2 linked regions of the Homo sapiens genome follow. The protein of the gene in region 1 purifies or fractionates together with the protein of each later gene. This does not show direct contact. Each region holds a gene or a part of one and is shown on either strand. Other genes may lie near its edges. The genes, in order: SLC9A5 and PRKAB1.

Region 1 (15,370 bases):
CCCAGGTGATTCAAATGCAGCTGGTCTGATGACTGATGTTGGGGGACCACAGATCTGTATCACTGGGATAGCTGGGGCAGAGAGAATGGATAAGTTCTCTGAGGAGAGTGTTTCATGGGGCGGGAGGAGGGCTAAGGATAACACTGAGGAGTGCGCATGGGAGAAAAGGAAAGAGAGCCAAAGACAAGGAACCCTTGGAGAAGCAGTGGCAGGTGGTGCCTCAGGCCTGGGGCAGAAAGAGGGCTGGATGCTGCGCAGAGGCCTGGCCAGCACCTAGGCAGAGCCCACAGCACTGGTGACCAGCAAGAAGGCAGCACTGTGGAGTTGTGGACCCTGGAGTTGCATTTCTGGTTTTTAAGGAAATAGTGGGTAGGAGAGAAAGTGTCAGAATCAAATTATAAAAGTGTAGCAGCAAAAGGGAGACAATGGTGTTCAAGGGAAGACTTTCTTTAAGGAGGCAAGGGCAGGAGCTTGAAAACAGAGGGGAGGGAGCCAAGTGGTGAGGTAAGGAGTGAAGATACAGGAGAGTGGAGGAATAGGAGGCAGCAGGAACTGCTGGAGGCAGGAAGGAGGGAACTGAGCAATGTGGAGGCCGGGGCTGGGCAGCAATGAGCCTTGTGAAGGAGATGGACCCCTTCTCCCCAGGAGAGAGGGTACCTCCTGGTGCATAGGTAGATGAGGAGGGCAGATGGAAGACTTGAAGGGGGCTCTTAGAACTGGTTCAGGGAAGCAGAAAATATGAGATAAAGGGACCAGACTTGGGATTTGAGGCAAGATAAGATGATTTGGCAGGCACTGGGAAGCATTTCAGGGGATTACCACTAGATGATGAAAAGGTGCTAAGCAAGGAGGGTAGAGGCAGAGGCAGTCTAGGTGAGTGTGTAGCGGGCTTGGTGTTGATAAGAGTTAAAAAGAGCATGGCCAGGCGCAGTGGCTCATGCCTGTAATCCCAGGACTTTGGGAGGCCAAGGCAGGCAGATCACTTGAGGTCAGGAGTTCGAGACTAGCCTGGCAACATGGTGAAACCCTGTCTCTACTAAAAATACAAAAATTGGCCGGGTGTGATGGCAGGCACCTGTAATCCCAGCTACTCGGGAGGCTGAGGCAGGAGAATTGCTTGAACCCCAGAGGCGGGGGTTGCAGTGAGCAGAGATCGTGCCATTGCACTCCAGCCTGGGTGACAAGAGCAAAACTCCGTCTCAAAAAAAAGAAAAAAAAAAGCAGATGATGGGGGTGATCCTGAATTATTGGGACTGAGAAGGTCCAGGGTGTCAGGGGAGATAGTTATGAAAGTTCAAAGTGCAGCCCAGGATATCATGGTGGTTCTTGTAGAAATGGCTAGATAGGAGATTCCAGCTGGAGAAAGGATCCTGTGTAGCTAGAAGGGGGCAGGTAGGCTGGGTGTGTGGGCGAAGCTCAGATAAATGGAGGTACAAAGAAAATGTCCCCCATGTTGTCACAGTAGTAGAACAAGACAGAGGGTCACCTTCAAACCAGAGAGAATCGGGAAAGGATGGCAAGGGTTGGGGAAGGCCAGGTTTGGGGGAATAAGTTCTGGGATAAAGGGAAGCTTTTCCCAGGGAACTGAGAACACAGGGTCTCTGGCTGGGTTCCTGTTGTATTTTTTGTTTTGTTTTTCAATCCATTGTTAATTCTGGAAAAGCTGGGCTGGCAGGTCCTGTGGTGAATATGTTGGGGCTGTGGCCTGGGGTTCTTGTGGGAGGCCAAGGCATCCATCCTCATAGCCAGGCGGGGCTGTCATTGCCAGTACAAAGCCAGCTGCAGTCGCCACTTCATCTCAGAGGATGCGCAGGAGCGGCAGGACAAGGAGGTCTTCCAGCAGAACATGAAGCGGCGGCTGGAGTCCTTTAAGTCCACCAAGCACAACATCTGCTTCACCAAGAGCAAGCCACGACCCCGCAAGACTGGCCGCAGGAAGGCATGTCTTCCCTCAGGGACTCCTCTTGGGAGCTGGAGGCTGACAGCAAGCAGTTTTGAGCCCCCTAGTGTTAGGATCCAGCTTAGGGGGAACCCCAGTTGGGACAGTCCTCAGGGGCTTGATGACTACAGCAGTTTGGGTTCCCTTTTAGATGTTCCTGGAGTCCCAGAAGGGTAAGGTGAGACCTTCAGAGGGGGAGCAGCCTCTTGGCCATGTGGTCACCTGCTGGGAGGCAGCAGGGCCGCCTACCAAAGATGAAAAAGGCAGGAGAAAAGGAGATTCCTTTGAGGGGCAACTCCATGAGCTCCTAAGTCAGCCCACGCTGATGCATCCAGATTTCTTACTGGGGCATGGGTCACTCTTGCCTGGTTGGCCAAGGGATGGTAGAACCACTGGGACTGACATAAATTCCCTCCCCTGCTGGGTTAGGAAAACTTGTCCTGTTGACCCCACCAGATGACAGGGTTGGGGTGGGAAGCCGGGGCCAGAGGCTCAGGTTTTCTTTCTTGGTCCTCAGAAGGATGGTGTGGCGAATGCTGAGGCTACAAATGGGAAACATCGAGGCCTGGGCTTTCAGGACACAGGCAAGCAGGGAGCAGTGTGGGATTGAGGATGGGAGGGAGGAGGGAAAGGGCTGGGGCTTGCCAGCCAGAATCCTGGAGGACCCGCTGTAGGGTGCATTCAGCACCGTGACCTGGGGCTCTTCCTCCAGGGACTTGATTTCCAAGTTGGAAATGTTCAAAGCAGTTATTAGACAATGCGTGACAGGAGGCATCTGATTGCTAACTATGGGTTACAGGCCCCGAGGACTTGGAAAATGTGTCATGGAGATGGGGGAGTTTGGTCTGGGCCTTGGAGGATGGGTGGACTCTGGGGCCCAGTGTCCTGTCTGCAAAGCCAATTTTGTTTTGTTTTTTTGAGACAGAGTCTCACTCTGACAAGCTAGAGTGCAGTGGTGCCATCTCGGCTCACTGCAACCTCTGCCTCCTGGGTTCAAGTGATTCTTCTGCCTCAGCCTCCCAAGTAGCTGGGATTACATGTGCACGCCACCACACCTGGCTAATTTTTTTTTGTATTTTTGGTAGAGACAGGGTTTCGCATTGTTGGCCTGGCTGGTCTTGAATGCCTAACCTCAGGTGATCCGCCTGCCTCAGCTTCCCAAAGTGTTGGGATTACAGGTGTGAGCCACCGCACCTGGCTGCAAAGCCAGTTTTGTATGAGCTGAATGTTAATGGGCCTTCCAGCAATCCAAGTGCTCATGTTTCCAGTGGATCGTGGGATTTGGGGCTGAAAGAAGAGGATGGGGGAGCTGGAAAGTGTGGTCCTCATGACTTCCTCCGGGGACTTAGCTTCCTCTGGTCGCTTCCTTGGGCTCCGCAATGTCAGTTCTCTTCCTCCCAAGTCCCCACCTCTTAGGCCAGTGCTTGAAACAGCCAGAGGAGAAAGCAAGTGTCTCTGCCAACGTGTGTTCTGCCTAGGGAGACAGGGAGCTGGCTTGGGGCTGTGTAGTCCCAACAGGCAGCTGCCAGCCCAGGATGCCTGACTCTGCTCTTGTCTCTGTCCAGCTGCTGTGATATTAACCGTGGAGTCTGAGGAGGAGGAGGAGGAGAGCGACAGTTCAGAGACAGAGAAGGAGGACGATGAGGGGATCATCTTTGTGGCTCGTGCCACCAGTGAGGTTCTCCAAGAGGGCAAGGTCTCAGGTAATGGCTTCCTCCCTGCCCACCTCCCCTCTGGAGCAAGCTGGTTTCCTCTCTCTTCACTCATGGCCTCTACTCCAGACAACTCCCTTTTCCTATTCACTAGTTTATTCATCAGCCAGCATTTGCAGAGCCTCTTCTTCATACCAGATGCCCGACATAGGTAATATTCAACCCTCACAACAACCAAGATGGGGAAACTGAGCTTAGAGAGCTTAAGAGACTTGTGACTTGTCCAGCATCACATAGTAGAACCAGAATTTGAACCTGACTCATCTGACTCCCAAGCCCACAGCCTTTCTTTTTTTAATTTTTAAATTTATTTTATTTTATTTGAGACAGAGTTTTGCTCTTGTCATCCAGGCTGGAGTGCAGTGGTGCGATCTCAGCTCACTGCAACCTCTGGCTCCCGGGTTCAAGCAATTCTCCTGCCTCAGCCTCCCTAGTAGCTGGGATTACAGACGTGCACCCCCACGCCTGGCTAATTTTCATATTTTTAGTGGAGATGGGGTTTCACCATGTTGGCCAGGCTGGTCTTGAACTCCTGACCTCAGGTGATCCACCCACCTTGGTCTCCCAAAGTGCTGGGATTACAGGCGTGAGCCACCATGCCCGGCCTATTCTTTTCTTTTTTTTTTTTTTTTTAAATGCCATTCTTGCATTGCTATAATCTTTTTTTTCTTTTTCTTTTTTTTTTTTGAGACAGGATCTCACTCTGTCACCCAGGCTGGATCATGGATTGCACAATGGCATGATCATGGCTCACTGCAGCCTTGATCTCCAGGGCTCAAGTGATCCTCCCACCTCAGCTTCCCGAGTAGTTGGGACTACCGGTGTGCACTAGCACACCCAGCTGTTGTTTTTTTTTTTTTTTTTTTTTTTGCTACGGGGTTTTGCTCTTGTTGCCCAGGCTGGAGTGTAATGGTGTGACTCAGGTCATGGCAACCTCTGCCTCTCGGGTTCAAGTGATTCTTCTGCCTCCGCCTCCCGAGTAGCTGGGATTACAGGCATGCGCCACCACACCCAGCTAATTTTGTATTTTTAGTAGAGATGGGGTGTCTCCATGTTGGTCAGGCTGGTTTCGAACTCCTGACCTCAGGTGATCTGCCCTCCTCGGCCTCCCAAAGTGCTGGGATTACAGGCATGAGCCACCGTGCTCAGCACCCAGCTGATTTTTAAAAATTGTTTGTAGAGATGAGGTTTCACTGTGTTGCCCAGGCTGGTCTCAAACTCCTGGCAGTCTTCCCTCCTTGGCCTCCCAAAATGCTGGGATTGCAGGTGTCAGCCACCGTGCCCACCCACACCCTTTCAAGGCCATGCTGCCTCCCTTTGTAGTCTAGTGAGGAATAGGAGGTGGTGAGCAAACCATGGGCTCTGTTGAGACCCATGCCCTCAAGTAGATCCCCAGGTGAAGGTGGCAGCCTGACCTGGAGGAGCAGCCTGAATTCATCAAAATGGAGTTATTGTGGACAAAAATACAGTATATAAGCATTTTTCTGTATGTATAGAGACCTAATTCACTCATATTGTTAGTATCACTGGTGGTTGGCACCCTCAAGTGTCTTTAAACATTTTTTATTATAGAAAATTTCAAAATATACAATGATAGAACTATAAAATAAACTCCCATCTATCCATTATCCAGCTTCAATAATTACCTACTCATAGCCAATCTTATTTCACCTAAACCTCACCTATGCCCCACCCTCCACTGGGTTCCTTTGATGCAAGTCTCAAATATCATATCACTTTATCAATAAATACTTCAGTACATGTCTCTAAAATATAAGGATTCTTTTTTTTTCTTTCAAGATGGTCTCTCTCTGTCACCCAGGCTGGAGTGCAGTGGTGCGATCATAGCTCACTGCAGCCTTGAATGCCCCGACTTAAGCAGTCCTTTTGCCTTAGCCTCCCGAGTAGCTGGGACTACAGGCACACACCATCATGCCCAGCCTTTTTTTTTTTTTTTTTTCTGGTAGAGATGAGGCCTTGTTATGTTGCCCAGGCTAGTCTTAAAGTCCTGAGCTCAAGTGATCTTTACTTCTCAGCCTCCTAAAGTGATGAGATGAAAGGCGTGAACTACCATGCCCAGCCAGATAAGGATTTTTTTTTTTTTTTTTTTGAGTTAGGATCTCTCTTTGACACCCAAGCAAGAGTGCAGTGGCCGGATCATGACTCACTGCTTCCTCAACCTCTTGGGCTCAAGCCACTCCACCCGGCCTCAGATAAGGATTCCTGATGCATGCCTCTAGTCAATTGACCCCAGGAGGCTGAGGCTGCAGTGAGCTATGATCACGCCACTACACTCCAGCCTGGGCAACAGAACAACACTCTGTCTCTTGGGGAAGAAAAAAGGATTCTTTAAAAAATATGTAACCACAATGCCTTTCCCATATCTAAAAATCTGTCATCAAACATCGTTCAAATTTCCCTGATTATATATATATATATATATATATATATATATATATATATATATATATATATATTTTTACAGTAGGCTTGTCCAATGTCCCTTTTAACCTATAGCAGTGATTCTCCAGGGGGATGGTGGTGGAGTGATTTTGCTCCCCCAGGGGACATTTGGCAATGCCCAGAGACATTTTTGGTTGTCACAACTGGGGAGGATGGCCTTGGATGGAGGGGTAGAGGCCAGGGATGCTGCTAAACATCCTACAATGAACAGGACAACCCTCACCAGCAAAGGAGTAGCTGTCCCAAAATGTCAAGTGTCAACTTTGATAAACCCTGATCCATAGTTTCCCCCAAACCCCCTACTTTTTTTTCTTCACGATGTATTTACTGAAGAAACCTGCTTATTTGTCCTACAGTCTTTCTCTGTCTGGATTTTGTTGGTTGCATCCCCAAAGTGTCATTTAATATGTTTCTCTGTCTCTTAAATTTCCTTTAAACCAGTAAATCCACAGGCAGTGGCTCACACCTATAATTCCAGCACTTCGGGAGGCCAAGGTGTGCAGATCACCTGAGGTCAGGAGTTTGAGACCAGTCTGGCCAACATGGTGAAAACCTGTCTCTACTAAAAATACGAAAAAAAAAAAATTAGCTAGGCATGGTGGTGGGCACCTGTAATCCCAGCTACTCTGGAGGCTGAGATGGGAGAATAGCTTGAACCTGAGAGGTGGAGACTGCAGTGAGCTGAGATCGTGCCTCTACACTCTAGCCTAGGTGACAGAGCAAGACTCCATCTCAAACAAACAAAAAAACAAAAAACCTCGCCTCATCAATTATTTGGTTACTTTGAGGTACAGTTCACCCAGTAAATGCTTGATTCTTTCATTTATCAGTTTTCAGACCAAAGAATTCATTCCCTAGCAGCCTGTAAAGGTGAATACCAAAGGTTTTTTGTTTTACACTTTTTGTTGTTGTTATCGCATTTTAATATTCCAGGTCTTTCAAGAGATACCATTTTACTTTTAATCATAGCATCAATACATTTCACACATGTACTCAAACAGAAGCTTATTGGGCTGCTCAGGACTTTATCGATGAACAGATACAGGCTGTACTGTACTTTGGAGAGCTGGGGTGGTTGGTGGCCAGAGGAATTCTCTTTCCAGGTTTCCTCCTTCAGAACCTCAGATTTCCTGTAATTCAGCCCCGCCCCTGCAGTTCTGGGATTCTTAGCTCAGGTCCCCTATGCCTCGTCATCCCCTTTGCGGCAAAGCTCTGGCCTGCTGTTAGGTTTGCATGAGCTCACACTCCTGGGCTTTGTCCCACCAAAGGGCTGTGGTGGGTACTCAGGCAGGATGCTCAGCAGAAAAACCTTTGGCCTGTAGCCTCCAGGTCTTTCTTTCCCTCTCTGGTGGCTGGCGTTTCTCCCTCGCTGGTTGGCTGGGATGGGGCTTGGCAGGAGGCTGTTTCAGAGACCAGTGCTGCAGTAGGGTGAGGGGACTGGAGATGGGGCTTCCTGCCTGGCTCCTGCTTTTGCTATCTTCTTATTTTTTATTTTTATTTATTTTTTATATAGAGTCTCACTCTTTCACCCAGGCTGGAGTGCAGTGGCGAGATCTCGGCTCATTGCAACCTCTGCCTCCCGGGTTCAAGTGATTCTCTTGCCTCAGCCTCCCGAGTACCTGGGATTACAGGCGTGTGCCACTGTGCTTGGCTAATTTTTGTATTTTTAGTAGAGACAGGGTTTCATCATGTTGGCCAGGCTGGTCACTAACTCCTGAGCTCAGGTGATCCACCACCTTGGCCTCCCAAAGTGCTGGGATTACGGCATGAGCCATAAGCCAACTTTCCTTATTTTCGTTTCTTTGATGAAAATAATGTTCAATTTCTTGAGCAACTACTGTGTGCCCGGCCCTGTGCTAGGTGTTGGGGATAGAGTGGAGAGTAAAACAAGCTGTGGTACTTCGCCTCAGCAAGACATTCATCCGATAATCGCAAAAATGGACGGCATATGGAAACTGTGGCATGAATTTATAAGAATGTGCTTATACTTGAGATTTCCACTGTATTGGTAATGAGTTCATGTGTACTCTCTGTCCCCAGGAAGCCTTGAGGTGTGCCCAAGCCCACGAATCATTCCCCCCTCCCCAACCTGTGCAGAAAAGGAGCTCCCCTGGAAGAGTGGGCAGGGGGACCTGGCAGTGTACGTGTCCTCGGAAACCACCAAGATTGTGCCTGTGGACATGCAGACGGGTTGGAACCAGAGCATCTCATCCCTGGAGAGCCTAGCGTCCCCTCCCTGTAACCAGGCCCCAATTCTGACCTGCCTGCCTCCCCATCCACGGGGCACTGAAGAGCCCCAGGTCCCTCTCCACCTACCTTCTGATCCACGCTCTAGCTTCGCCTTCCCACCGAGCCTGGCCAAGGCTGGCCGCTCTCGCAGTGAGAGCAGCGCTGACCTCCCCCAGCAGCAGGAGCTGCAGCCCCTCATGGGCCACAAGGACCACACCCATCTCAGCCCAGGCACCGCTACCTCCCACTGGTGCATCCAGTTCAACAGAGGCAGCCGGCTGTAGCTCAAGGCCTCGGGGAGGAGCAGGAGGTGGAATCCCTGTGGGAAGTGCTCCCTGGGTGATGGGTAGAGCCCTCGAAACTTGACATGGGGCCAGAAGGGCCTGGGTTGAAGTAGTAATTGGGCTTCCTTGGAGCTAGTCAGAGGGGTCACCTAAGCTGGTCCTCACAGGGGCCTTTCTCACCACCTCCCTGCTCCTAACCCCTGCCACTTTCTGTTTCATTAAGGCCTCTACTCTGGCTCAGGACCCAGTCCAGGCCTTCTACGGGCTAGGCCCAGAGACTTGGGTTGCTGGTCCCCCTTCCCTAGTGGGTTTTCCCGGGGACTCTATAGGCAGCTGCTCCTGCCCGCAAAGCAAGAGCATCATTCCTATTCTTCAGTGGATGCCAGCCTTCCCTGCCCCAACTCCCTCCCCAGCACTGGGTCAGTGGTGTCCTGGCAGTGAGGCTCCGTGAGGGGCTGGCCCTTAGAGGAACTGGGGTGGGAGGTGGGGCAGGCCTCACCCTTGGGCTTTGCTGCCCTGTTGGGTCAGCTACCCATAGTCCATTTTTTTAGGGCAGTGGGAACCTCTGCCTCCACTTCCTGCTTTAGCCCCTTCCCTTTGCTGCCAGGTATTGGGGTAATATTTCCTCCTTTTCCAAGACCAAGGCCAAGAGGCTGGGCCAGGCTTCAGTTCAGGCCTGTTGCTTAACTGGGGTCACCCTGGGATCTGCTGCTCTGGGTCTAAGTCTAGACCTTTCTGATCCTTGGGTCTGGGTTTTTTGAGGAGGGGACATAGTGGCCTCTGGGCTGCCATGTCACCACCTGAACATTCCCCAAACAGAGAAGGAACCCAGCATCTCAGGGCCACTGCTCCATTGCTCTGGGGGCTGGGATGCCTGGCTAAGCAGGGGCTGACAGGGTGGCAGGTGACTTTCTAGGGATCAGCACCTGCCCTGTGTTTTGTACCTTGAACCTAAGATATATTAAACATCTCTCAGATGGATGGGTGTCTTGTGTCCATGTGTCAGGGGGTTCTTAGGGTGGGGGGCAACAGGGGCATCTGGTGAAGGAGGTGAGAACCCAACTGCCTGCCCCAGGGATTGAGAATGGAGGGGAATCCTAGGCAGGACTATTCATCCTTCTGGTCCCCTGTCATGCATTCCCCAATACTTTTCCAATATTGTCCCCTTAGCAGGGGTCCTGCAGTGGTGGTCAAGGGGATCACTGTTTTGGCATCGAGTCACAGAACTAAAAGTCTGCAAAATGAGAAAGGCTAGCAGGGAAAGACCCCAGAGGTCAGGTGCCAAGCTGTCCTGATGCAGCCACCACACACCTAGGACCAGATGAGCATTTCTTGAAAACCTGGATGCAGGTACAGGACACATGAACAGAGGTGGCCTTTTGCACATGACAGACAGGAAGGCAATCTCAAGGGCTCACGGGATTTGGTTACCGTGTTTATTTTTTATTTTTGGAGACAGGATTTTGTTCTATCACCCAGGCTGGAGTGCAGTGTCACAATCATAGCTCACTGCAGCCTGGAACCCCTGGGCTCTAGGAATATTCTCGGCACAGTCTCCCAAGTAGCTAGGACTACAGGTGTGTACCACCATGCCTGCTAAATTTTTAGTTTTTGTTTTTATTATATTTATTTATTTTTAGAAACAGGATCTCACTCTGTCACCCAGGCTAGAGTACAGTGGCATGATCTCGGCTTACTGCAACCTCTGCCTCTTGGGTTCAAGCAATTCTGCCTCAGTCTCCTGAGTAGCTGGGACTAGAGGCACATGCCACCATGCCTGGCTAATTTTTTGTATTTTTAGTAGAGACAGAGTTTCACCACGTTGGCCAGGCTGGTCTCGAACTCCTGACCTCAAGTGATCTGCCTGCCTCAGCCTCCCGAAGTGCTGGGATTACAGGTGTAAGCCACTGTGCCTGGCATATATATATATAATTATATATAATATATATAATAATATATATTATATATTATATATTAATATAATATATAATATATATAATATATATTATATATAATAAATATATAATATATAATATATATTATATATAATAAATATATAATATTATATAATTATATATTATATAATATATATTATATATATTATATAATATATATATTTTTTTTTCCTGGAGGTAGGGCCTCACAATGTTGCTCAGGCTGTTCTTGAACTCCTGACCTCAAATAATCCTCCTGCTTTGACCTCCTCAAGTGTTGGAATTACAGGTGTGAGCCACCTCACCTGGCCATCTCTGAGTGTTTATGATGCAAATCAGATAGTGTGGGGTCCAGAAACATGAATAGAAATCCCTAGATGGCCGGGCACAGTGGCTCATGCCTGTAATCCCAGCATTTTGGGAGGCCAAGGTGAGTGGATCACCTGAGGTTGGGAGTTCGAGACCAGCCTGACCAACATGGAGAAACCCAGTCTCTACTAAAAATACAAAATTAGCTGGGTGTGGTGACACACGCCTGTAATCCCAGCTACTCAGGAAGGCTGAGGTGGGAGAATCACCTGAACTCAGGAGAATAGCTTGAACCCAGAAGGCAGCGGTTGCAGTGAGCCGAGATTGCACCATTGCACTCCAGCCTGGGCAACAAGAGCAAAACTCCATCTCAAAAAAAAGAAAAAAAAAGAAAAAAAAGAAATCCCTAGATAAGAGCAGTCCCAAATCCAATTCCCCTGGTGTCTAAAGGACTTAAAACAAAAACAAAAACTTTGGCCCAGCACAGTGGCTCACGCCTGTAATCCCAGCACTGTGGGAGGCCGAGGCAGGTGGATCACCTAAGGTCAAGAGTTCAAGACCAGCCTGGCCAACATGGTGAAACCCCATCTCTACTAAAAATAACAAAAATTAGCCAGGCATGGTGGCGCTCACCTGTAATCCCACCTACTCGGGAGGCTGAGGCAGGAGAATGGCTGGAACCCGGGAGGCAGAGGTTGCAGTGAGCTGAGATCGTGCCACTGTACTCCAGCCTGGGGGGCAGAGAGAGACTCCATCTTAAAAAAAAAAAATCTTTGAGAGCTGGGCACAGTGGCTCATACCTATAATCCCAGCACTTTGGGAGGCCAAGGCAGGCGGTTCGCTTAAGGCCAGGAGTTCAAGACTAGCCCGGGCAGCATAGCAAGACCCTGTCTCTACCAAAAATCCAAAAAATTAGCTGGGCGTGATGACTCGCAACTTTAGTCCCAGCTACCCAGGAGGCTGAGGCACAAGAATAGCTTCAACCCGGGAGGCGGAGGTTTCAGTGAGCCAAGATCGCACCACTGCACTCTAGTCTGGGTGACAGAGCAAGACTCCATCTCAAAACACACACACACACACACACACACACACACACACACACACACCAAAAAAACCCCATATATATATATATACACACACACACATACACACACATATATACACACGCATATATATACGCATATATATACACACACATGTATATACACATATACACACATATATACACATATACACACACATATACACATATATACACACACATATATACACATATATACACACACATACACACACATATACATATATACACACATATATACATATATACACACATATATATACATATATACACATATATATACACATATATATATATATATACACACACATATACTGCACTGCACTGACTAGAGTGCAGTGGTGCGATCTCGGCTCACTGCAACCTCTGCCTCCCGGGTTCCAGCCATTCTCCTGCCTCAGCCTCCCGAGTAGGTGGGATTACAGGTGAGCGCCACCATGCCTGGCTAATTTTTGTTATTTTTAGTAGAGATGGGGTTTCACCATGTTGGCCAGGCTGGTCTTGAACTCTTGACCTTAGGTGATCCACCTGCCTCGGCCTCCCACAGTGCTGGGATTACAGGCGTGAGCCACTGTGCTGGGCCAAAGTTTTTGTTTTTGTTTTAAGTCCTTTAGACACCAGGGGAATTGGATTTGGGACTGCTCTTATCTAGGGATTTCTTTTTTTTTTTTTTTCTTTTTTTTGAGATGGAGTTTCGCTCTTGTTGCCCAGGCTGGAGTGCAATGGTGCAATCTCGGCTCACTGCAACCGCTGCCTTCTGGGTTCAAGCTATTCTCCTGATTCTCCCACCTCAGCCTTCCTGAGTAGCTGAGATATATTTGAGATATAAGTCACATACCATAAAAATTCACCCATTTTAAGTGTACAGTTCAGTGTTTTGAATATACCCATAGGGTTGTGCAGCCCTTACCACAATCTAAGTTTAGAACATTTTCATCATCCCCCAAAAAACCCTGTACTCATTAGCAGTCAGTCCTCATCCCTGGCCCTCCTCAGCCCTAGGTAATAACTAACCTACTTTCTGGCTGTCTGGATCTGAAGGACTTTTGACACACTTGGAAGGTTATACTTTTAGCCAACTTACCTTTACTTTTTCTGCATTATGCGCAGGGAAGGTGTGATGAGAAGGAAGAGTGACTTGGGCTTTGCCCTTAGGTTGTTTACAGGCCACAGTGATAAGGCCTCGTAGTTAACTAGTCGTCAACAGTTTATTTTTTTAATTTTTATTTTTTACTCTTTTTGAGACAGTCTCAGTCAGGTCACTCAGGCTGGAGTGCAATGGTATGATCTTGGCTCATAACCTCTGCCTCCCAGGTTCAAGCAATTCTCCTGCTTCAGCCTCCCAAGTAGTTGGAATTACAGGTGCCCACCACCATGCCCGGCTAATTTTTTGTATTTTTAGTAGAGACAGGGTTTTGCTATGTTGGCCAGGCTGGTCTCGAACTTCTGACCTCAGGTGATCCACCCGCCTCGGCCTCCCAAAGTGCTGGGATTACAGGCATGAGCCACTGCGCCCGGCCGTAGTCAACAGTTTAGAGTCAACAGCCCCAGCTGTCACTCACAAGTGTCATTCTGGGTGTGTTACATGCTCTCTCTGAGCCTCAGTGTCCTCATCTCTCAAATGAGATAATCATACTCACTTCATAAGGCTGCTGTCAGGATTAAATGACAAAATTTAATGGGAAGAATCTACCCAGGGCCTGGCTCAAGGTAAGGGATCATAAATGTCATTATTTGTCGGGCCGGGTGCGGTGGCTCATGGTTGTAATCCCAGCACTTTGGTAGGCCAAGGCGGGTGGATCCCTTGAGGTCAGGAGTTTGAGATCAGCCTGGCCAACATGCTGAAACTCCATCTCTACTGAAAATACAAAAACTAGCTGGGCATGGTGGTGCATGCCTGTAATCCCAGCTACTCTGGAGGCTGAGGCAGGAGAATCACTTGAGCCCAGGAGATGGAGGTTGCAGTGGTGGGGGCAGATGAACATGGTGGGTTTGACAGGGAGGCAGGCAGGTGACTTGGATGCAGGAGAGCAAGTGCGTCAAGCGCTCATCCATGGGTCCTTGCCATGTGACTGGGCAGGGTGGCCTGAGCTGAGAGAACTTGGCTGGGGTAGTCTTCGTGAAGGAGATGCTGCACCCAGGCCTCAAATGAGGAAGGATTTTGATTAGGGGAGATGGGCATGGGCCTTCAGGAAGAGGAGCCAGTGTGAGACTAGACTAGTAATCAGATTTGTTTTCCAGGCCAGTCTGGGAGGTAGATGGGAAGGCTGTGATGCCTCTAAGTGGCCTTGACTGTCATACCAAGGAGTTTGGAGTTTATTTAGGCCAAAGGCAAGAGAGGTCTGGAAGTTCTGGGGTATTTGTTGCCCTCAGTATTTGGGGTAGTACTGAAGAGGGGTGTGCAAGGTGAATGACTGTGGGTCTGTTGTCACTAGACCCAGTGAGGCCCAGAGCCCTCCCCTCCTTTTTATTTATTTATTTATTTTTGAGACAGAGTCTCGCTTTGTCACCCAGGCTGGAGTGCAGTGGTGTGATCTTGCCTCACTGGAACCCCTGCTTTCCAGGTTCATGTGATTCTCTTGCCTCAGCCTCTCAAGTAGCTGGGATTACAGGCATGTGCCACCACATCTGGCTAGTTTTTGTATTTTTAGTAGAGATGGGGTTTTGCCATGTTGGCCAAGCTAGTCTGGAACTCCCGACCTCAGGTGATCTGCCTGACTTGGCCACCCAAAGTGCTGGGATTTTGTGGCATAAGCCACAGTGCCCGGCCCATTTTATTTTTGATTGAGTCATGTTGGCAAGAAATGGGAGGCTGAGGGAGAGTTGGGGAAGGGCCAGGGGAGGGAGGCCCATTCCCATTTTATGATCTCAGTGGAAAAGGCTGCTGTGAGTTGATTCTGCTGCCAGGAGAGCCACAGAGATGGGCCCCATGAGTCACTGCTCAGTCCTGCAAGCTCAGCCCACAAAGCCTGCTGTGGTCAGCCACCCCTGGCTGGCTCCAGGCCCAGCTCCCCAATATTCCCCACTAGGCCTCAGTGTGTCCTCATTTCTATCTGTACCTTTGCCATCCTGGGCCATGCAACCTGTAGCTCTCGGCCTCTTCTGTCTCCTTTCAGGCTGAGTCTCTGAATCTGTCTCCATTTGTGACTCTGGTTTCCATGGGATACATAGATGTGGAGCCTCAGGAGGGCAGGGGTAGTGTGATCAGTGTCAGGCGCCCCAAAGCATTTATTCTGTGCCAGGCCCTGTGCTGGATGCTGAAAGTACGGAAGTGGATAACATACAGTCTCTGTTTCCATGAAGCCTACAATGCACATTCTCTGTGGAGTGGAGAAACCAGGGCCCAGCCCTGCCTCTATCTCAGTATGGCTGTACCTCCCCTGAATCTGCCTGCTGTGCCCAGGGTGCCAGGTCAGCTA
Region 2 (15,625 bases), on another chromosome or scaffold:
ACCATCTATGCCAAGTCTTAAAACATTTTCATCATTCCAAAAGAAAGCCCTCATTCCCTCTTCCGCCAAGCCCGTGGTCACCACCAGTCTGCTTTCTATTGACATGGATATATCTATTCTGTATATTTCATATAAATGGAATCATATAATATATGACCTTTTGTGTCTGGCTTATTTCACTTAGCATAATGTTAATATTTTTGAGGTCATCCACATTGTAACATGTAACAGTACTTTATTCCTTTTTGTGATAGAAGAATATTCCACTGTATGAACATACCACAATTTGTTTATAATTCATTTTGTTATTGTTGTTACAGAGTCTTTCTCTGTCGCCCAGGCTGGGGTGCAGTGGCACAATCTCAGCTCACTGCAACCTTCGCCTCCCAGGCTGAAGCAAGTCTCATGCCTCAGCCTCCCAATAAACTGGGATTACAGGTGTGCGCCACTACAACCAGCTAATTTTTTGTATTTTTAGTACAGATGGAGTTTCACCATGTTAGCCAGGCCGGTCTCGAACTCCTGGCCCCAAGTTGATCTACCCACCTCGGCCTCCCAAAGTGCTAGGATTACAGGTATGAGCCACTGTGCCAGCCTACAAACTCATCTCTTGGTGGACATTTGGATTCTTTCCACCTTCTGTCTATTATGATAATGCTGCCGATCCCTGTTTTTTAAAAGTCTCCATGGTTCATCATATCAAGAAGAATGATAATCTCACAGTACCCTGGACCAGAAACCAAGACATAAGATCCAAATTATGATCTATGACCACTAACTTTTTCTATAATTCAGCAAGCTATTGTCCCTCCTCATCTGTAACCTATGTGGTTGAACTAGGATTTTCATGCAATTAGTGTGTCTTGGGAGGTGTTTCTGAGTATTTATTTGGAAGGTGCTCCTAAAAAGAGATAAAGAAAAGGAAAGGAAGATAATCAATGAATTCCTTGATCCAATTACTGCTGTGGACATCTAGGGTGCATTTCCACTGGGGACCTCTGAGACACGGTAGGGAATATATCTTAGTTATACGAGAGCTAAAAAGAAATTATTTAGACAGTTAGTGAGGGTAAGAGAGTCCTCAGTAAGGTTTTTCTTTTAATAAAAACGCAGTCTCCAAATCATTTCTTTTTTTAACAAAAAGCAGCCTGAAAAATCAAGCTGCAAGCATAGATAAGCAAGCTAGAGGCTTGCATAGGTAAATACCAGCAGCTGTGCCAATAGAAAACAGATAGCTGGAAACCAGGTATATTCAACATGGAGGTTCCCTCTTCCCTTTTCTTTGTTGCCACGTGTGCAGATAACATGGCACCAGCCAGGTTTTTTAAAATTCCATTTGCATAATAAAAGATTAGAGTGGGATGACCAGCCTCTTCACGGGCTATGAAAATGGCACATCTGGTCCAACCAATCCACTACACCCCATGTAAATCATATACCATCTCCTCACGCTCATCCCTAAAACCAACCACACCTTGCCCCAAACCAGGGAAACCCACTCAGGACCCCTTCTTCTGCATGAGGAAGCTCTCTTCCTTCTTTCATCTATTTAACTTTCCACTCTTAAACCCACTCCTTGCATGGCCATGTCTTCAATTTCCTTAGCATGAGACATCGAACCTCGGGTGTTACCCCAGAAAAATGACGCTGCTTCATTAGAGTTAGCACATCCAAGGGGCAAGGGAACTGGCTCCTCTGTGGTTGGCTGAGGGCTTCTCTCAGGGTGTCTTCTCTGGTCCCCTTGGGTTCCCACTTGTGTCGACAAAGCTTTCTCCAGAAGGCCCTCAGAGTTGCACCTGCTCACAGTTAGGAAGTTTGGGGCATGCGCAGAAGGGCACATGCAGATGGGGTATGATGGTCCCAACAGCATATGTTAAAGTGATTATGAAACTTTGATATTCAAATCCCTGGGAGCTTACATTTTAAAGAGATGAGACAGAGACAGACTTCCTCTCATTGTTTTCACCTCCGTTGGATCTTTGCCTGGATACTGCTTTAGTTTGTCACTTGTCCTCTAGAAAAGGGGTAGAAAGTGTACATCCTTTTCTCCTCCATTCCTTCAAAGCTCTTAAAAGAGGATAGAGATGCCAGGTGCAGTGGCTCACACCTGTAATCCCAGCACTTTGGGAGGCCGAGGAGGGTGGATCACCTGAGGTCAGGAGTTTGAGACCAGCCTGGCCAACATGGTGAAACCCCGTCTCTACTAAAAATACAAAAAGTAGCCAGGCGTGGTGGGGTGCGCCTGTGGTCCCAGCTACTTGGGAGGCTGAGGCAGAAGAATCGCTTGAACCCGGGAGACGGAGGTTGCAGTGAGCCGACATTGCACCACTGCACTCCAGCCTGAGTGAAAAGAGTGAAACTCCATCTCAAAAAAAAAAAAAAAGAGGATAGACTTGAGGTGAACTTTATTAAGAACATTGTGTTACCTTGAACTGGGCACTTCTCCCTTCTAGGTTTCAGCTTACCCTGTGAGTGAAGCTATTTATTTAAAAAAAACTTTATTGAAAATAAAATAAAGATACAGGAAACTACACAAAAGAAATGTATGGCTTAGTAAGTTACTACAAGGCAAACATGTTAATAATTACCAACCCAGGTCAAGAAACAGAATTTTCTCAGACAACCTAAAAGTCACAAAATGAGGCTATTTGCCAATTAAGGTTGTAGACCAAATGCTGTAGAATGAACTTCTTTTAATTCTATGTTGATGACTCTCTGTCACAATATTCACATCTCAGTGCAAAGAGAACACAAGAATGTCTAGCAAGAAAAGATGGACAAGTTTCTCAAACATTGGCAGTGTTACTTACATTGGCTAGGCAAAATTCAGAAGGCCTGGTGGAAATCTGGTTAAGCCCTAAAAGTAAGCTTGTAATTCTATCCTAGCAGCCCACACACATTTGAGTCTGTCTTAGTCAGCTCAGACTGCTATAACAAATCATCAACTGGGTGGCTTAAACAACAGAGATTTACTTCTCCCAGGTCCGAAAGCTGGAAGTCTAATATCAGTGATATAATTTGGATACTTTTCCCCCTAAATCTTACACTGAAATGTAATCCCATGTTGGAGGTGAGGCCTCCAACATGGTGGGAGGTGACTGCATCATGGAGGTGGACTTCTCATGAATAGTGTAGCACCATCGTCTTGGTGCTGCCCTCACAAGATCTGGTTGTTTAAAAGCGTGCGGCACCTCCTCCCACTTTTTTTCTTACTCCCACTCTTGCCATGTGATACATCAATACATCGGCTCCCCCTTGGCTTCCTGAGGCCTCACCAGAAGCAAGCAGATACCCAGAGCCATGCTTGCTGTACAGCCTACAGAACCATAAGCCAAGTAAACCTCTTTTCTTTATAACTTACTCAACCTCAAATATTTCTTTATAGCAATACAAGAATGGCCTAATACAATCAGGGTGCCAGGATGGTTGATGTGTGGTGAGGGCTCTTTCCCTGAGTTGCAGATGGCCGCCTTCTTGCTTTGTCATCACATGGCCTTTCCATTGAGCATGGGCGTGAATAGACAGCATGCGAGCAAGCTCTCCAGCGTCTCTTCTTCCCATAAGTACCCTGATCTCATCATGGGGGCCCCACTCTCATGAGCTCATCTAACCCTAATTACCCCTTGAAGGCCCCACCTCCAAACATTATAAAATTGGGAGTGGGAGTGCAAATGTATGAATTTTGGGGGGATACAATTTAGTCTACAGCATAGTCCAAATGTGAAATTTCTTCCTCCAGCTACCGATGTTTAGTGAGAACACTGCCTGTTCTCACCACATGTGCATATGTGTGTGGACTCTTTCCTCTGGAGGGCAAGAACTTGGTTTTGTTCACTGTTGTAACCAAGAGTTACAACAGTGCCTGGCTCATAATTGGCACTCAATATTGCCATTGAGTTATTTGTGATCAGAGCCCTGGCTGTTCTTAGATGGGGAGGGTTCTTCAGAACAGTACAAATGTTTGTAGACAGGCCAGCTGGGGAACCAAAGGTCTTTTTGATGAGGTGCCATGACCATGATGTAGTGGGGAGTGGCCAGGTGATCCAGAATTCAGTCTCAGTATGACCTATGATCATCTGAGTGACCTCAGGCAAAACTGTTCGATCTCTGGGACTTAGACTCTTCCTTATATAAAACAAATGGGTTGGTCAGTTCAGAAGTGCTATACTGATTCTAATCCATCCTATGGAGGAGGCCCCAAAACATTATCCTTAACCCTTTTAATCATAAATTTAAGGATAAATGAGATTTTATCTCACTCTGGGTGACTTTTAAGGACTTGAAAACCTACTTCTTTTTGTGCTTGGAGCTGGAGTGAATTTGAAGCCAGGGTTGCGGGGGTGGGGGAGGGGTACTCCTAGCTGTGGCTGTGTTAAAATTGCCCTGGTTTGTTTGGGGGAGAATCTAGGGTATTTATCATTTGTCTTTGCCCTGGTGCCAGACAGACAGCAGTGAGTAGATGATGCCTTTTACACAGCAATGTGCTAACAGTTATACTTCCTGGCACACCTCCAGCCCCCAAGATGGAATGGTCTGACATCCATATCAGCAGAGAATCAGAGAAAGATGAGACGCTCTGATGCTTAGGAAAGTCACAAACCATTGTTACACAGATAAGTAACACAAAATGACCCAAGAGAGACACAGCTGGGACCCAAGTAGACACTTGTAATTGGCGAGTCTACCCTACCCATGATTTTCAATATGGGGTCAATAGCTGATAGATACCAATGTTAGTTTCTTTGTCATGAAATCTTGATACAATGTGGTAAGAGTTTCCAATCAGCAGTTGGTGGCATCCTCAGGATATTGTTGATTGTATTTGACATCAAGGGCCACCCATGCTTTCACTGTTATCTTATTCAAGCTAGTGCAGATGTCTTAAAACTTTCTTCATGCATCAAAGCATCTGCATAGCTCAGATAAAGAATCCACAGCTCATGTGTTCTTTCTTATCTCTCCGGCTGTTTGGGAGAGATTTCAAAACTCAACACCCCACTGTCTCATGTAACCAAGTCAGGGCCACTATTAGAAAAGCAGCTCAAAGAAGATATCCTGGGTCATCCACAGTATCTTAGCTTATTTAATTCAGCAAGCACATTCAACATTTCTGATTATACTGAATACATTCAAATTCTCAGTCATCAGCTTCAGGAAGACCCTCCTGGCTCCCATCCCTTTTCCTGGCTCCCATCCCTTTTCCTGGCCTGGCTTAAGTCCCTTCTGGGCTCCCACAGGATCCCTTACCTAGCTATATTATTGCTTTTCTGTGGGTCGGTGCCAGCCTGTACTGTATTAATTCCTTTGGGGCTGGAACCATATCTTATTTTTTTAAATTAAAAAGTAGTACATCCTCACAATAGAAAACTTTTCAAATACAGAACTATATAAATGAAAAGTGAAAGTCCCTTTTCTGTCTGCTCCTATTTGCAATCTCCCTCCTCTCCCCACAGAAGACCACTATTAACAATGTGTTGTATACCCTTCCAGAACTTTCCATTTGCTAGCCTAATAGTGCTAATAAAAGTGTTAACAGTTATTGAGTGTTTACTAAGAGTCAAGTGCTATGCTCAGCATTTTTATGCACGTTCCCAATTAATTCACAAAACAAGCCTATGAAGTAGGTGTTATTTTTGTTCCCATTTCACAAAAGAAGAGACTAAGGTGACAGTTACTAAATGGTAAAGCCAGAATCTGAACATGGCCAGGCTGAATTCAGAGCTCCTGCCCTTGAACTTGTTCTCTCACTTGCTTCCGGACCTTGCAATATCATAGACACTTCCCCATAGTGACCTAAAAATGGTTTCTCCCTTTTTAAAAGTTGCTTGGTATTCTACAAAATGAATGTATTCCATTCATTTTGCCATTCTCCTACTGAACAACTTTTAGGATTTTGTAGTTTTTCATTTCCTTATTTCACCAAGTGTAAGATTCCATTATTGTAAAAAGCATCCAGTTTCAGAAATTAAAATATATGGGGGCATGGGGGGTGACAAGTGCATCTTAGAATATATTTTTGCATGTAAATATTTTGTAGATAATGCTTGTAAATAATTTTCATGTGTGTATTTCTGCACAAGTTTCCTAGGAGTAAAATTGTGTGTCAAAATGAAGGTGCATTTTTAAATTTTGATGCATACTGCTGAATTCCCCCCAGGAAACCTTATCTTAGTCATCTTGTGTTCCTCATTTCCTTAGCACAATGTCTGGTACTTTTTTAGGTACTAAATAAATGTTCAGTGGGTGAAATGCATGACCTGACCCGGCAAATGCAAAGTATTTTGAGATATTCACACACCAAAAAACCCACAAAATATGACAATGACTGACAATGAGAAGATGAGAATATTTTACTACCGTATTTGTATGCACTTCTTGTTGAAGCACTGACCAGAGTAAATGACAAACGCTAATGCATCTTATGCAGAAGGATGTTTCCGAAGTGATTACAAGATATCTTGCAAAATTACCTATCAAAAGATTGCACACTCAATAAAAATACACGAATAACTCCAGCATTTTACAACCCCCAACCTACTAGACATAAGAAATTTCCAGAGATCTTATGGTCTGCCATTTTTTCAAATACCTGCAAGACTGCCTGCACCCCCGACCCTAATCTGTAGAAATCATGATTCTGCAGGTCTGCAGTGGGGGATGCATTTAACAAGCGCTCCAGGTTAACCTAATGCACTGTAAAGCGTGAGAACACGTGCATTAAAAGGGCTTTAAGAAGTGGAGTTTCTGAATCAGATTTGCATTTTAGAAAGATCCCTCTGGCTGCAGAGTGTAGAATCAACTATAAGTGAGCAAAGATAGCTAAATGGCATTATTCAGCCCAGCGCATGAACGGCTCAGATTGCCCGCGCGCTGGGGTGCCCCCTGCCGGCCCTCGGCAGCGCCTCGTCCTGGGCCTGGCCCTGGGCGGCCGGCTGCTGACTGCGACTGCGCGCTCCGAGGCCTGCAGAGACGGCCCGGGGCACCTGTTACCGCACCGCTCAAGACCGGAAGCGGAAATGGAATCGAGATAGCCTCGCGCGTTTAGCTGGCCGCCGCCACCTCCACGCCCTAGGCCGGGCCGACTTACGGAGTCGCCGGAAGCGGAAGTCGCTGAGGGGTGGTGAAGCGGTTGGGAAAGTGTCGGTTTATCTTCGCGCCCCTTGCGTTCTTGCCGCGGCTTGCCTGGGCAGGTAAAGCGCGATTGCGAGAGCTCGGCAACCCTGCCGACTCAGCCGGAACCGGCTCCCGGCCCGAGGGGCGTGGTGTCCTGGTGCTCCGACTCCTTCCGCAGGCTCCTTGGGACCCGCGGTTCCGGGAGTCCCTTGCTCAGGGTCCCTTTCCTGCAGTGAGGCGCCGTCCGCCTTCCCTGTGTCCCCGCAGACCCCCATCATGGGCAATACCAGCAGTGAGCGCGCCGCGCTGGAGCGGCATGGTGGCCATAAGACGCCCCGGAGGGACAGCTCGGGGGGCACCAAGGACGGGGACAGGCCCAAGATCCTGATGGACAGCCCCGAAGACGCCGACCTCTTCCACTCCGAGGAAATCAAGGTGCGAGCGGTGTGGAGGAACCCGATTCCCCTTGACTAATGTTGAGGAGAGGAACCCTCCACTAGATTCCCGTCACATCCTTTCGAAAAACACCAGAACGGAGAGGGAGGTGGTACATTACCCGGTGCACTTAAAAGCCAGATGGTCCTGTAAGAGTTCTCTTAGCGGTCCAAGAACCTGTGTCTAATTACCAATATGAGAAAGTCACCCTGAGGGAGGAGGTGCTCACTTGGTTTAACATCATTAAGGAGAAAGCAGCTCTGGGACAGAGTTTCAAATTCTTAATTAATTCAGAGTCGAGCTAACAGTAATTGAGCCCCAGCTTCTGCTTTTCTCTTAGGTGTAATTAATTGCACTGCTTTGAGACAAATTCCCTCACCTTTACACAAACTGGAGCTTTTGTAAAAGTTAGTTTGGGAATTTATCCATTTTGGAGGCAAACCAGGTACATATACAAGCTGAAAGTAGAGCGGAACAGCTGACGGCAGTTGCCAGAGGTGTTTAGTTCTGCCCAACACTTTTGATTCACCCTACTTATTTTTTAAAAGACGGTGGTCTCACTAATTAGCCGGGCGTGGTGGCGGGCGCCTGTGGTCCCAGCTACTCGGGAGGCTGAGGCAGGAGAATGGCGTGAACCCGGGAGGCGCAGCTTGCAGTGAGCCGAGGTCGCGCCACTGCACTCCAGCCTGGGCGACAGAGCTAGACTTCGTCTCAAAAAAAAAATATAAATAAAAATAAAAAAGACGGTGGTCTCACAATGTTCTCCAGGCTGGTCTCGAACTCCCGGGTTCAAGCAATCTTTATGCCTTGGCCTCCCAAAGTGCTGGGATCGCAGGCGTGAGCTACGGTGCTGGCCGGTTCAGCCTACTTTTTTTTTTTTTTGAGACCGAGTCTCGCTCTGTCGCCCAGGCTGGAGTGCAGTGGCGCGATCTCGGCTCACTGCAAGCTCCGCCTCCTAGGTTCACGCCATTCTCCTGCCTCAGCCTCCCGAGTAGCTGGGACGACAGGCACCCGCCACCACGCCCGGCTAATTTTTTATATTTTTAGTAGAGACGGGGTTTCACCGTGTTAGCCAGGATGGTCTCCATCTCCTGACCTCAGGAGATCCGCCTGCCTCGGCCTCCCAAAGTGCTGGGATTACAGGCGTGAGCCACTGAACCCACCCTACTTATTTTTTTTTTTTCCTTCTTTGAGATGGAGTCTCACTCTGTTGCCCAGGCTGGAGGGCAGTAGCACAATCTCGGGGCACTGCAACCTTCGTCTCCCGGACTCAAACCATCCTGCCTCAGCCTCCCGAGTAGCTGGGACTACAGGCGTGTGCCACCATGCCTGGCTAATTTTGTGTATTTTTGGTAGAGGTGGGGTTTCGCCATGTTGCCCAGGTTGGTCTTGAACTCCTGACCTCAAGTGATCCGCCCGCCTGGGCCGCCCAAAGTGCTGCGATTACAGGCATGAGCCACCACTCCCGGCCTCACCCTGCTTTTTTTTAAAGCGTACATAGAAAAGTCTTTCAGCTTCTAGAGGTCAGTGGGCGGTGAGGGTCTGTCTGAAGGAGGCAGCCAGCAGCTACTGAACTTCTCTCTAGTGTTGTTTAAATATGACTTAATCGTGCTTAAGCAGGCCAGTGCAAACATTTTTCTTCCTGCTGCAGCCTGTTTAAATTCAAAAACTCAGGTGACTTAACTCCTGCTTCAACCACACTCCTGTTAACCACCTTCATATGGTGGATATTTCCAGCCGCAGGGCTCAGTCCAAGGACACTTAGTGATTCTGGCAGCTGGTATTTATGTGTTATGTCCAAAAGGAACTAATTGTTTCAAGGAACAAAGTAGGTTTAGGAAAGATAAAGCTGCCCTCTGCCCAACATACCCTGTTAGTATCCAATTTCATGTTAATCATCATCCATTTAATTGCTTGGCAGCTCATTCCATCTGTGTTTGTCCTCATGTTGAGCGAGGTGATCACATCTCACACCTTCTTTTGGATCTTAGTTTTGAGCCTGACTACAAAGAGGCTGCTTTTATGTGGCCCTACAACCTGTGGTTTGAACTTGCTCTCTGAATTTGTTGCATTCTTGAAGAGCTGTGTGCAAAGTGAACTTTAGAATCATGTTTCTCTAATGACTTGACGTCCTTTCCCCAGGAGGTAATTTTGGTCCCTGGTCCCAAGAAGGCTATTTAAGACACCAAAGGAATCAAAACTACTTTCTTCAGAAGTATTTGTTCTGTTACTATTCCAAAACTCCTCCAGGAAATGTTGAGCACACACATCATCTATGGGGAATGATTTCAAGCAGCGTCCATTCTCACTTCATTAGAAGTTACTGAAATCCCCAGATACCAAAAAAGTCGTGAATTCTTTTAACTACACTAGGGTGCTATTTTGGTCATAATTAGTTATCCTTAGTGTGAAGTGATTCCAGTCTGTTATTTAATATGTAGATCTTGTTAGAATTCAAAGAATACAGGCATCATTTGGATAAGCTGAGGTCGGTATTTGAGATGAAGGTGCTAGAAGCCTGCTTAACTCCCTGAAGAGTCTTTTCCAGCCTGAACCTTCTGCTCTTTTTAAGTCTTTGGCTTCTGACTGGGAAAAAATCTAAAAGGTGCATGACTACATATGTCATCCAGATAGATTTGGATGAGTTTATTTCTTATTCTGGAATACCTCAGTTATACGGAGCTTACCACACTGGAGGTTATCATTTATCCTAATGAGGGTTCAGTCTTTGTCTTGCTTTATTCCCCAGTCCCTAGACAGAACTTTGTGAGTAGTTTTTCCCTTCCTCAAAATCTGGATTTGCCTATTTTCAAGTTGACAGCTCTAGAATTGTTCCTCTTAAATTTTCATGTACAGTCATACATCACTTAATGACAGGGACATATTCTGAGAAATACATCATTAGGTGATTTTATCATTGTGTGAACATCATAGAGTGTACTTACACAAACCTAGTCTGTTCTCATGCTACTATGTAGAAATACCCGAGACTGGGTAATTTATAAAGAAAAGAGGTTTAATTGACTCAGTTCCGCATGGCTGGGGAGGCCTTAGGAAACTTACAATCATGGTAAAAGGCACCTCTTCACAGGACGGCAGAAGAGAATGAGAGCAAGCAGGGGAAATGCCAGATGCTTATAAAACCATCAGATCTCATGAGACTCACTCACTGTCAGAGAACAGCATGGGGAAACCGCCCCCATGATCGATACCTCCACCTGGTCCTGCCCTTGACACGTGGGGATTATGGGGATTACAATTCAAGGTGAGATTTGGGTGGGGACGCAGAGCCAAACCGTATCACCTAGTCTATATGGTGTAACCTGTTGCTTATGGACTATAAACCTGTACAGCATGTTATTCTACTGAATACTGTAGACACTTATTCCACAAGTATATTTAAGGATTTGTGTACTTAAATGTATCTAAACATAGAAAAGATAACAATAAAAATATGGTATAATCTTATGGGACTACCATATACACAGTCCGTCGTTGACTAAGACATCATGCACATGACTGTACTTCAAATCTTGCTTGATTAAGGGAGGAACATGACATTAAGCTAGTCTTGGATTCGTAGTAGCCCCTTCCAAGTGTGTTTCATAGCTTCTTCTAGAATTTTGATGTCAACTTCTTTAATGACAACAATAGCTAATAATTAGCACTCACTGTGTCAGACACTATATAGAGCACTTACATGGACTGTCTCAGTCTTCACAACCTTAAAAAATATATTTCTATTTTGCAGGCAAGGAAACTGAGGCACCACTAGTAAGTTTCCGATCCTAACCATGAACCAAGATAGTAACAGCTGCGTCTTTAGAATGAATTGTCAATATTGTCTGTTGTAGGGAGCTCGCTTATGGCTTTCTGAGTAAACTGCTCTGCTTCTAGGCACCAGAGAAGGAGGAATTCCTGGCCTGGCAGCATGATCTGGAAGTGAATGATAAAGCTCCCGCCCAGGCTCGGCCAACGGTGTTTCGATGGACGGGGGGCGGAAAGGAAGTTTACTTATCTGGGTCCTTCAACAACTGGAGTAAACTTCCCCTCACCAGAAGGTAATTGCCTGGGGAGTGTTCACATATTTGTCTTAACATAAATTCTCTTCTTTCTAAAACATCTCTGAGAGAGAACAGAAAATGGATGTTTCTATAAAATGGATGCCTAGTGGAAAAATAATTTTGCTTAATAAGTCTTAAGGTTCAAATGTTAAACCTTGGTGGTCTCTAGGTTTAGAGTACAGAAGAAAGAGAATATTTCTGTGTCACAGACATCTTTCACTTCAGATCCTCAGCTATCTGTTCGGTCAGGACTTTTCCACAGAAACACAAAAATCTGTCTTAATGCAGTAAGGGAGCACTGGGCTGGAATCTTAGAAACCCACATTTGAGCCCACATTGGCCATGCTGTCAGTCACCTAACGTTAGTTAACCTGAGCCTCAGCGTTCGTTTCTGTAAAGAGGGAATATTGGACCAGATCATCTCTGAGGTTTCATCTAACTTTGACTCTGCGTAATACTTTGTTTGAAAAGTACATGTTGGCTGGGCATGGGGGCTCATGCCTATGATCTCAGCACTTTTGGGGGCTGAGGCAGGAGGATTGCTTGAGGCTAGGAGTTCAAGACCAGCCTGGGCAACATAGTGAGACCCCCATCTCTACAAAAAAATTAAAAATTAGCTGGACATGGTGGTGCACACCTGTATCCCCAGCTACTCGGGAGGCTGAGATGGGAGGATTGTTTGAGCCTGAGAGGTCAGTGCTGTAGTGAGCAGTGGTTGCACCACTGCACTCCAGCCTGGGCAACAGAGCAAGACTTTGTCTCCAAAAAGAAAAGAAAAATACATGCTATGTAGGTGTCATTAGCAAGGATTATAGTAAGACATTTTATCAGGAACCCCAGCATGGACTTCTGTCTTAAGTTGTCAGTGAGAGAACACCTTTAGTGAGTATTCTTGATAAAATGAGGGAGAAAGTGTCAGGCCTATTGTCAGGGGCTGCCTGCTTTCCAGCGTTTCCATTGGAGAAGGAGGGAGCCACTCAGCACAGCAGTCACAGGTCAGTTCAAGCCAGGGGACAAAACAACCCAGTGAAGGGGCTCTTCCGGAGTTTGGTTTTTCAGTCATTAGGCAAGTTTCTTTAGAGAACATTTGAGCTTCCTATTCAATTGATCCCTTCTCCTGCCCAAGGCAAAGTGACAAAGGGTAAAACGAGGCAGCTTCTGTTTATCTTGTGTTGTCATCCTCCTTGGCATCCAGGAGCCTTGCGAGCTTGAGACGCACAAATGCCTGACTGTTGACCTTTTAACATTAGGGATGTGGTTTCCTGGTATTTGAGTAAGGTGAGTTTTCAGGAAACTGTGTCGCACTGCTGCTTCCTTATAGCCTTTTCAGATTGAGGTCATTATGCTGAATTGTCTAAATGGGCTAAAAATGTTTGTTCTCCTGCAGCTGAACTCTTGGTTTTATGTGGAAACGTTTTGTTCTGTAGCTGGTTTGGCAAGTAAGCTCGGGGGGCAGCCCACCCCACGGAAGTCCTCTGCTTCCTTTTTCCTTGCAGCCACAATAACTTTGTAGCCATCCTGGATCTGCCGGAAGGAGAGCATCAGTACAAGTTCTTTGTGGATGGTCAGTGGACGCACGACCCTTCCGAGGTACTCTTCCTCCCACCTCTGGTCCTCTGGGTGCCCGCACATTCCAAACAAATCACCTTCCCAAGAGATTGCCGCTAGGTCCCTTTGCCCAGCTAGTAAAAGTCCCCGTGTGTGGCAGAGCTGAGTAGCAGCACTACCTGTCAGACAGTTGGCATACTTGACCAAGATGAGCAGGGTGGCTAGCCAGGAGATGAGGCCTTCCAGCCAGGAATTCCAAGTCCTCTGAAGAATAACTCCGCAGACCTTCCACGTTATGATTTCTGCCTATCTGTCTCTTCCCAGCCCATAGTAACCAGCCAGCTTGGCACAGTTAACAACATCATTCAAGTGAAGAAAACTGACTTTGAAGTATTTGATGCTTTAATGGTGGATTCCCAAAAGTGCTCCGATGTGTCTGGTATGAACACAGTTATTTTATACCACATGCGTGCAGGTGGGGGCTGTACAGTCTAGACATACTCTTGTTTCTCTTGCCTCTCTTGAGCTGAAGCTGCCCAGTCAGATAGGCATTTATAGCCCCCACTTAAAGGCCACAGAACTTAATTCCTGTCAGGTTGTTGAAATTTAGCCCTAAGGGAGCTACAAGTCATTTCCCTGGTCATCTCAGGTATTCAGTAGGTCTGCTTGGCCACAGAACGCAGACAGCAGAAATGGAACCATAGCTTGATCTCGTGCCAAGGGCAGGGCTGAAGAGGCCCTGGAGGGTGGCACTGAGTCAGTGACAGCCCAGCACTGGGGAAGCCTGTGTCTCATCCCACTTGTGGTGCCTGAAGAATTTCAGCCTGACAGGTGTAAATGGACACCTCAGTGACCTTAGCAGTCACTTATGTGGTACATTAGCACCTTGTCAGAATCCCTTTGGGGAGGATGCGGCTCCCCACGGGAAACAGCCTGCACAGCCCAACTCTCCTTGATGGGAAGCTATTTGGTACAGAAATACAGACCCAGTAAAACTTCTCCATCTTGTAAGAGCCTTTCAGGCATCGAGGTTTCAATAAATTGCTTTCCCTCCAAGCCCCACAGGAAGAAACTACCTGGAACATGATTCATACAGTTCGGGGGAAGAGGGTTGCGATCTAAAGTGTTCCCCTTCTTGGAGGCGGGGGCTTAACAATTCCTGGACTCTGAGGGAGGCAGTGGAAAGATGCCCTGGCAGAATATCTGGCGCCCTAAGAAAACAGATTCCGTTCGTTGACAGGAGAGTTCTTCATCATTGTCTAGTTAGGCCTGGAAGTTCTGCCACCAGGATTTCTTGTTACCAGTTCAGAAATCACAGTGGTAAAATGATCACAATGGGCTCACTGTGGTTGACAGTTTGTTGAGCAGGACTTGGAAATCCGAAATCTGTGCTTTTATCTGGGTAATTAGTCTTTTAGAGATATCATCTAGTTTTTTTGCAGATAGTTGAGAATCAGGGAATGGAGGAAGTGTGCCCAAATATCCTCCAAAATATATAACTTACTGATACATGTAATTTTAAGCCACTTACAAGCTTTTTAGTCAAATTTCCACCTAGGGAAAGGAAACGGACCCCTCACTGATACGAAGCTAATTCCACGTTCTCTACAGACTTCTGTTTCGACACTTACTTCCTCAAAATGTTATTTACTCCTTATGGCTCAGTTTTCTGCACTTCATGCTTTTCTCAGTTTCTTGCTGTGATATGGTTGGGTCACATAAACGGGGCTTGTCCCCTGAAAAATGACATTGAGGGAATTGGCAGAGCTGGGGCATAGCAGATTTTCCCTGGACCAGTCCCAGGATCTGGCGACCAGAACCATCCCACGCGTTCTTTGGATGATGGCTTGGTACCTTCTGGCTGGCCAAACGTCACTATCCAGTGTTCTAGCATTATGAAATCCTGCTCTTGTAGCAGCTTCTCAGTGTATCTGAATAATCCAGATACTCAAGCAAGAGTTTGGAAGGAACTTGAGTGTAATGGAGTTAAAGAGCCTTTAGATATTGGGCTTTCAATTTTCCCCCCCATTTTGAAATGTGCCTCGTTTAGCCTGTTTTCTCCACGGCCTCTGTGTAAACAGACTGCCTCATCTTCTGTTGCATTGCGGCCGGGGGTGCCCATAACTTGGACTTAGCTACTCAATCCTCACTTAGCCTCCAGCTTCTTTGTGGTTTTGCCAGCCCAGCCTGAAGGGAGAAGGAAGTCTTATTCTGCCGTGCGTGTGGGATTAAGTTATCGAGAATAGCCTCCTTGTGATCTGACGCAGACTCACTGGCTGGGCCGTGTCTTCCACCAGGGCATCTGAGTTGACTACTGAGTTGTATGCTAGTCACCCAGATTCCAAAAGGGTTTTCTCCTCTCCTCTATTCTGCACTCTTGGAACCAGTGCATCCTTCAAGAGAATGTAAATCTGCATTGAGGGAACAAGAGACAAGGAAAATGAGATGATGACAACATAAGTAAG

Evidence for each region.
Region 2: the proteins of SLC9A5 (region 1) and PRKAB1 purify together in Homo sapiens (affinity purification with mass spectrometry; 2 studies listed by BioGRID and IntAct, with this or other methods). This does not show direct contact.

The regions. Positions count from the first base shown.
Region 1 is NC_000016.10:67,262,584-67,277,953, forward strand, and holds the end of SLC9A5 (sodium/hydrogen exchanger 5 isoform 1 precursor), read left to right. Parts: exon of another isoform or gene 1-1,768; coding exon 1,769-1,939; exon of another isoform or gene 1,940-2,456; coding exon 2,457-2,523; exon of another isoform or gene 2,524-3,504; coding exon 3,505-3,642; intron 3,643-8,154; coding exon 8,155-8,627; 3' UTR 8,628-9,608; downstream 9,609-15,370. UniProt on the Homo sapiens protein: Plasma membrane Na(+)/H(+) antiporter. Mediates the electroneutral exchange of intracellular H(+) ions for extracellular Na(+) in 1:1 stoichiometry, thus regulating intracellular pH homeostasis, in particular in neural tissues.
Region 2 is NC_000012.12:119,660,856-119,676,480, forward strand, and holds the start of PRKAB1 (5'-AMP-activated protein kinase subunit beta-1), read left to right. Parts: upstream 1-7,277; 5' UTR 7,278-7,389; coding exon 7,390-7,548; intron 7,549-11,445; coding exon 11,446-11,609; intron 11,610-13,108; coding exon 13,109-13,202; intron 13,203-13,484; coding exon 13,485-13,599; exon of another isoform or gene 13,600-15,571; intron 15,572-15,625. UniProt on the Homo sapiens protein: Non-catalytic subunit of AMP-activated protein kinase (AMPK), an energy sensor protein kinase that plays a key role in regulating cellular energy metabolism.